2 linked regions of the Homo sapiens genome follow. The protein of the gene in region 1 purifies or fractionates together with the protein of each later gene. This does not show direct contact. Each region holds a gene or a part of one and is shown on either strand. Other genes may lie near its edges. The genes, in order: DENND5A and BEND3.

Region 1 (2,833 bases):
TGATCTCGGCTCACCACAACCTCCGCCTCCTGGGTTCAAGTGAGTCTCCTGCCTCAGCCTCCCGAGTAGCTGGGATTACAGGCATGCGCCATCACGCCTGGCTAGTTTTGTATTGTTAGTAGAGACGGGGTTTCTCCATGTTGGTCAGGCTGGTCTTGAACTCCTGACCTCAGGTGATCTGCCTTCCTTGGCCTCCCAAAGTGCTGAAATTACAGGCGTGAGCCACCATGCCTGGCCAACATTTAGAAGCTTACTTGTCCTAATTAAATACAGAGCATGGAAGAAGGTTTTGAGGGTCCAAAAATGAAGTGTACATTCATACAATATGCTGAAAAGGTAGAGGAGAAAGATCAGAGAAGACTTCAGGGAGGAGTTGGTATTTAAGTGAGCCTTTAATGGAAGGAAATAACAGAACGTGGCAAGGGCAGTAATAGGAAACACAGTTGAAAGGAGGGTAGGGCCCCTGAGCTGGGACAGAGAAAGATTCTTTTCATATTAGTACAAAGTTGTTTCATCAGGGGACTGAAGTAATATTAATCTGATATTATGGGTGGTATGCATTAGAGTGGACATGATTATTAGGGGCTATTCCTGTAGGTCAGGTGAGAGAGCATGAAGCTCAAATAAACTTAAGGCAGTTTATTCAGGCTGCATAAAGGGAGAGAATTGGCATAGTGGTTAAAAACAGACTCCAGAACCGCATTCACTAGGTTCAGATCTCAAGTTATCCATTTACTAGCCATGTGATCTTGGACAAGCTACTTAACTTCCATCTACCCTACTTTCTTCATCTATAAAGTGGGGATAATAATAGTACCTACCTCATATCACAGGGTTATCATGAAGATTAAATCTCTTATGTCAGTGCCAGCACATGCTGAGTGTTATGTGAGGTTAGTGCTTATTATTATTCCTGGTGGTGGTAGCTGTGGGAGGAGAGAAGCTCTGGGAGACACCAGTGGTGGGGCTGACTAGGCAGGGCGAGGGAGGCAGGGGAGGAGGAGGCTTGGAGGCTCATGACAGGGCTGATTTGGGTCAGGTTTGTTTGGTGTCCTGGAGCTGAAAGACCTCTTTGCCAGTCCCTGTTTGGGAAAGGGGGGTGTGGGGGGCTGTCAGCTTCTCCAGCTTCAGACTTAGTTCATGGTTTCCCCCTTGGCCTTGCACTAACGCTCTCTCTTCCTTTTCCTTTGCCCCTCTGACCTGCCTGGACTGCTCCCGCTCTGCCAGAGATCACCTCCTACACCACTGGATTGCCCTGCTGGCTGACTGCCCCATCACTGCACACATGTATGAGGATGTGGCACTGATCAAAGACCATACACTTGTCAATTCCTTGATTCGTGTGCTGCAGACATTGCAGGAGTTCAACATCACGCTGGAGACGTCCCTTGTCAAGGGCATCGACATCTGACCTCCCAGCACCAGCCAGCAGCAGGACTGAGAAAGACTCACCCTGCAGCTCTGACCTTTTTTCCCAAAGGGACTTAAGCGATTGTGCAGGAGTAGGAGACAAAATGTACACTCACTGTAAAAAGAAAACTAGAGGATTTTTGGAATAAATAATCTATTTTAGAGTTTATTTGCTGATTTGCTTTTTACACACTTTCATGTGAAAGAGTGATAGGGAGAGGGAGCGAGGCTGGTGCCGCTTATTTTGAAGCTGGTGCCCTCCCTCGCCGTGGCCACATGCTGGAAGCCTGAGGCCTCCCTGGACTGAGCCTGTGGCACTGCGTGCGGGACAGTTATGTTTCCTTGCCCCGTCGCATTAATGAGGCCCTTCCACATCATTTTTAAACTAATGTTTTTCTATATTAACATTATTATGGATATTTGGCTTTCATAGGCCACACACAGGTGTGCTGCGCGGGAAGCCCCATGCTCCAATCAAAGGGATTTTTAGTAGTGCCTCTAAGCAAGCACCGATGAGTCAGTCCCACGTATTTTCTTTTTTGTCAGTATTGTTTGGGAAGGAGACATGCCGGGATGTGTCATCGTGCCAAATACCACATTTCCTGTTGGCACAGTTTCACAGAAGTAAACATAAGCATGTTTTAACAGGTTTTTCTTTTCTTTTTTCTTTTTTAAAATGTTTTATTTATTTAACCCGCCATTGTGTGTTTTTAAGTATTTTCTTTTTTTAAGGAAAGGAAAAGCTTGTCACAATCTAACTGGCTATGTTATTATTATTAAATTTATGTTTTGCAACTTAGAAACCAGCTACAGTATGGCCCACTTAATAAAACACCTGAAACAAAAACTGCATGGATCACTGATTTTTATGGAGGTTTATGAGCAGTGGGTGGCTGCGGGTGCAGTTGGGTCCATCTGTGAGGATGGTCTTGTGGCATCACCTCTCTTTACCAGCAGGCTCGGGGTTGTGGCCTGCCCAGGATGCCCCTGAGGGCCTGGGGTCTCCTGGGTCCTTCTGCCCGCAGTGCTAGGAGCCTTCCTAGCTGTTATGTGGCTGATTCACATGGATGCAGACAGGGTTCTTTCCCCACTCCACAGAGGAGGAGACTGAGACACAGGAGGGAAAAGACCCGGCCAGGGGTGCAGAGGTTGTCACTTGACTGAGACAGGATGGGCCCTTTCTTGAGAGGGTAAGGGAGACCAGGTGTGGGAAGCTGGGGGTCGGGGGAAGCTCTTGAAAGAAAGGTTTGCTTTCCTGGGGATGGCAGGTGGGAGACCTTTATGAGAGGTCCAGCTTCGTTCATTTTTATTCTTCAGGCTGCTTTGGCAGGAAGCTCCAGAAGAAGTGTAACGTGATCAAGTCAGGCACCTCAGACCAATCAGTGCCCTCTTTTATGCTTTCCTGGTTTGCATGCATTTTCCC
Region 2 (3,820 bases), on another chromosome or scaffold:
CCTCTGGCAGCTCTGATTAGGCTCACGCTGCTGTCCCAAAAGACCTGGTCTGTCTGCTCTCTCCACAGCAACTGACTATTCAAAGAACTTGATAGAAAGGTACCCCGGGCCACTCCCAGCCGCCTATGGGTTCACTAGAGAATGTCCTTTTGGAAATCTATGGGCTGGACAGGGAAAAGGCCAGTGATCCTGATCAACCGCCCCCTGCTTAGAAGACCATGTCATCTCCCATCCCAGTTCTTTTTTTTTTTTTTTTTCTTTTTTGAGACAGAGTCTTTCTCTGTCTCCCAGACTGGAGTGCAGTGGCGCGATCTCGGCTCACTGCAACCTCTGTCTCCCAGGTTCAAGCGATTCTCCTGCCTCAGCCTCCGGAGTAGCTGGGACTACAGGTGGGTGCCTCCACGCCCAGCTAATTTTTGTATTTTTAGTAGAGATGGGGTTTCACCACGTTGGCCAGGATGGGCTCCATCTCTTGACCTCGTGATCCACCTGGCTTGGCCTCCCAAAATGCTGGGATTACGGGTGTGAGCCACTGCGCCCAGCCAACAGTGGACTTTTTAACCAAATATCCTTTCATGCTTGCTGATTTTTGTTCTGTGTGCATGTACAGTCAGCCCCGCCACATCTGCAGGTTCATCCAACTGCAGGTAGAAAATATTCCAGAAGCTGGAGCTGGACACAGTGGCTCACACCTCTAATCCCAGCACTTTGGGAGGTCGAGGTGGGTGGATTGCTTGAGCCCCAGAGTTTGAGACCAGCTTGGGCAACGTAGGGAGGCCCGTCTCTACAAAATAAAAAACTAGCTGTATGTGGTGGCGCATGCCTGTGGTCCCAGCTGCTTGGGAGGCTGAGGTGGGAGGATGGCTTGAGTCCAGGAGGTTAAGGCTGCAGTAAGACACGATCATACCACTGCACTGCAGCCTGGGTGACAGAACCCATCTTAAAAAAAAAAAAAATCCAAAAGAAAAACCAGTAAAAAATTACACCACGAAAAAACTATACACTATAACCACTATTTATATACCACTTACATTGTATTATTATAAGTAATCTGGAGGTGATTTAAAGTATACAGGAGGATGTACACAGGTTACATGCAAATATTATGCTATTTTTTATCAGGGACTTGAACATCTGTGGATTTGGGTGTCACTGGGAGTCTTGGAACCAACCCCCTGAGGATACTAAGGCATGACTATATTACCTGGTAAAAAATGGGGAAAAGCCACATTATGTATCTTCCCTCTTAAAATGAACACTAAAAAGATGAAGTGTCCTGTAGTGTGTAACTCTTTCCAGCCTATCTCTTTGTGATGTGGTTCTTCCTTTTTTTTTTTTTTTTTTTGAGACGGAGTCTCGCTCTGTCGCCCAGGCTGGAGTGCAGTGGCGCGATCTCGGCTCACTGCAGGCTCTGCCTCCTGGGTTCATGCCATTCTCCTGCCTCAGCCTCCCGAGTAGCTGGGACTATGGGCGCCCGCCACCACGCCTGGCTAATTTTTTTTTGTATTTTTTTTAGTAGAGATGGGGTTTCACCGTGTTAGCCAGGATGGTCTCCATCTCCTGACCTCGTGATCTGCCCGCCTCCAAAGTGCTGGGGTTACAGGTGTGAGCTACCACGCCCGGCCTTCTCTTTTTTCTTTGTTTTTTCTTTCTTTCTTTCTTTCTTTCTTTCTTTTTTTTTTTTTTGAGACGGAGTTTCGCTCTTGTTGCCTAGCCTGGCGTTGAATGGCGCGATCTCGGCTCCTCACAACCTCCGCCTCCCGGATTCAAGCGATTCTCCTGCCTCAGCCTCCTGAGTAGCTGGGATTACAGGCACGCGCCACCATGCCCAGCTAATTTTGTATTTTTAGTAGAGATGGGGTTTCTGCATGTTGGTCAGGCTGGTCTCCAACTCCCATCCTCAGGTGATCCGCCCGCCTTGGCCTCCCAAAGTCCTGGGATTACAGGCGTGTGCCACCGTGCCTGGCCTCTTTTTTCTTTTTCTTTTTTCCTAGGCTTAGCTCAGCTGTCTGAGGGACATAGAACAGACATCCCTTGGGGAGAAAGTTGATTTTGGGGAACGTGTGGATGTGTTGACTGTCCCATAATTTGAGGTTTATGGTGGGAGGCATGAGAACATTTTGAAAATGAGAGAATGTCAGAATGAGAAGTTCTCCAGAGTCCAGGAGGCAAAGGGAATGCTCACAGCAGCCTTTAGGAGGTGGGTGCTGTGGTGGTTGGGTAGTTGTGGCAGCGCCTACGTAGCCTATAGTCAGGTAGGCGAGAGGAATGTCTGTGGCATGCTAGGCATCTGGGTGCTGGGTGTCCACCCAGGAGGAGCAGAGCTTGTGACCCTCATCTGGGCAGGTGACCAGGAAATGGAGGTAGCAGTGTGCTCCCCATCCCCTTTCTGCCCAGCTGTGACATTGTTGGTGTGCTGTCCCTGCGCCAGCTGGGGATGCAGGGAGTGGCCTACACATCTCTCTTGTAGAAGCTTTTCTGTATTGTGGGGTGGAGTCTGTTTCTACGCACGGAGCAGACTGACTTTCCAGAGTGCTAATGGAGGCAGAAGGAGATGTGGTTTCCTGGTGCTGTTGGACAGAGGGACTCAAATTTGGAAACAGGCCCATGGTTCATCAGAAGAAGCTTAACAAAAGAATGAAGACTCTATTATTTCCTCCCTGGCTGGCTGAGGGAAGGCACAGAAAGACTCGATTTGAAGCCAGGTTCTGCCACTCAGTGATGTGACACTGGAGGAGTTACCTGTCCTGGGTTTCTCTATTTGTTGAAATTGGAACTAAAATAGCTCAGGGTGAGGCACAGGCACACATGCAGTGGCCAGCCCAGTGCCTGGTGTGAAGTTGGTGGGCTGCAGATGTTACAGGGGATGCTCACCTCACTCCCCACTGCGCAAGCCAGGGGCAGGCGCGAGGTTTCCAGGCCTTGCAAATGGGAGATTCCCCAGCTTCTTAATGAGTGAAGCTGATTTGCTGGCCCGGAGGGAAGGGGCCCACCATGCTGTGTTCTGGGCTACTTCTGGGCTAACCTAGCATCTGTCACTAGTCTATAAATGGACACGGAAGTGTTTTCCAAAGCACAAGCACTCGGTGTCTTGAATGCCCAGGCAGCCGCACCAGCACCCCTTCCTCCCACCTCAGCTGCATGAGCCCTCTGGGGTTTCTGCCCACTGCAGGTGGCTGAGATGTGTGCTCTTCCTTCATCACTTTATAGGGGCTCAAAATTCAGAGGCCAAATTGCCTGCTGTAGGGTCACATGGTGGTGGTTCAGAAAATAGCCTCCTTCCAACCCCACTGGAAACAAGGAAAAATAAAAAATCAGAAAATAGGTTTTCTGCTCACCAAGCCACATTCCCGGCAGGCTCCATGTGGCAGCCTGGACTCCAGCCCTGCACTGCTCCCTATGTGATGGGCCTGCCAGAGACACATGGTTGGGCGAATATAATGGCAGATAAATAGACTGCCCTTCTCACCACCCATGGCCCTGTCTGCTGTGTTCTCTCATCGACGCCTGTTTTGTTTTGTTCTAGTATTTGCCCATCCTTTTAGTGCTTTCCACTTACCAGAATCTTTGACTCTTTGCAATTTTTCTTTCACCATGACCCTTTTCCTCCCCAAATAAACCAACCGCTGTCTCCTCCCTCTCTGCCTTTTCTCTGCCAAATGTAATTTGTTTTGTAAAGTATGTCCGCCTCTGACAGCCATCGTTTTGCCCCATCTGTTCTGCATCTCAGAACTCCCCTTGATTGGCAGGAATGGGTTATGTGACCATGGCAGTTTCCAAGGGCAGGGGCATTCAGGTGACCTGCAGTGTGTTTCCTTGA

The links.
Region 2: the proteins of DENND5A (region 1) and BEND3 purify together in Homo sapiens (affinity purification with mass spectrometry; one large-scale study listed by BioGRID and IntAct). This does not show direct contact.

What each region holds. Positions count from the first base shown.
Region 1 is NC_000011.10:9,138,249-9,141,081, reverse strand, and holds the end of DENND5A (DENN domain-containing protein 5A), read left to right. Parts: intron 1-1,227; coding exon 1,228-1,411; 3' UTR 1,412-2,257; downstream 2,258-2,833.
Region 2 is NC_000006.12:107,101,815-107,105,634, reverse strand, and holds part of BEND3 (BEN domain-containing protein 3), read left to right. Parts: intron 1-3,820. UniProt on the Homo sapiens protein: Transcriptional repressor which associates with the NoRC (nucleolar remodeling complex) complex and plays a key role in repressing rDNA transcription.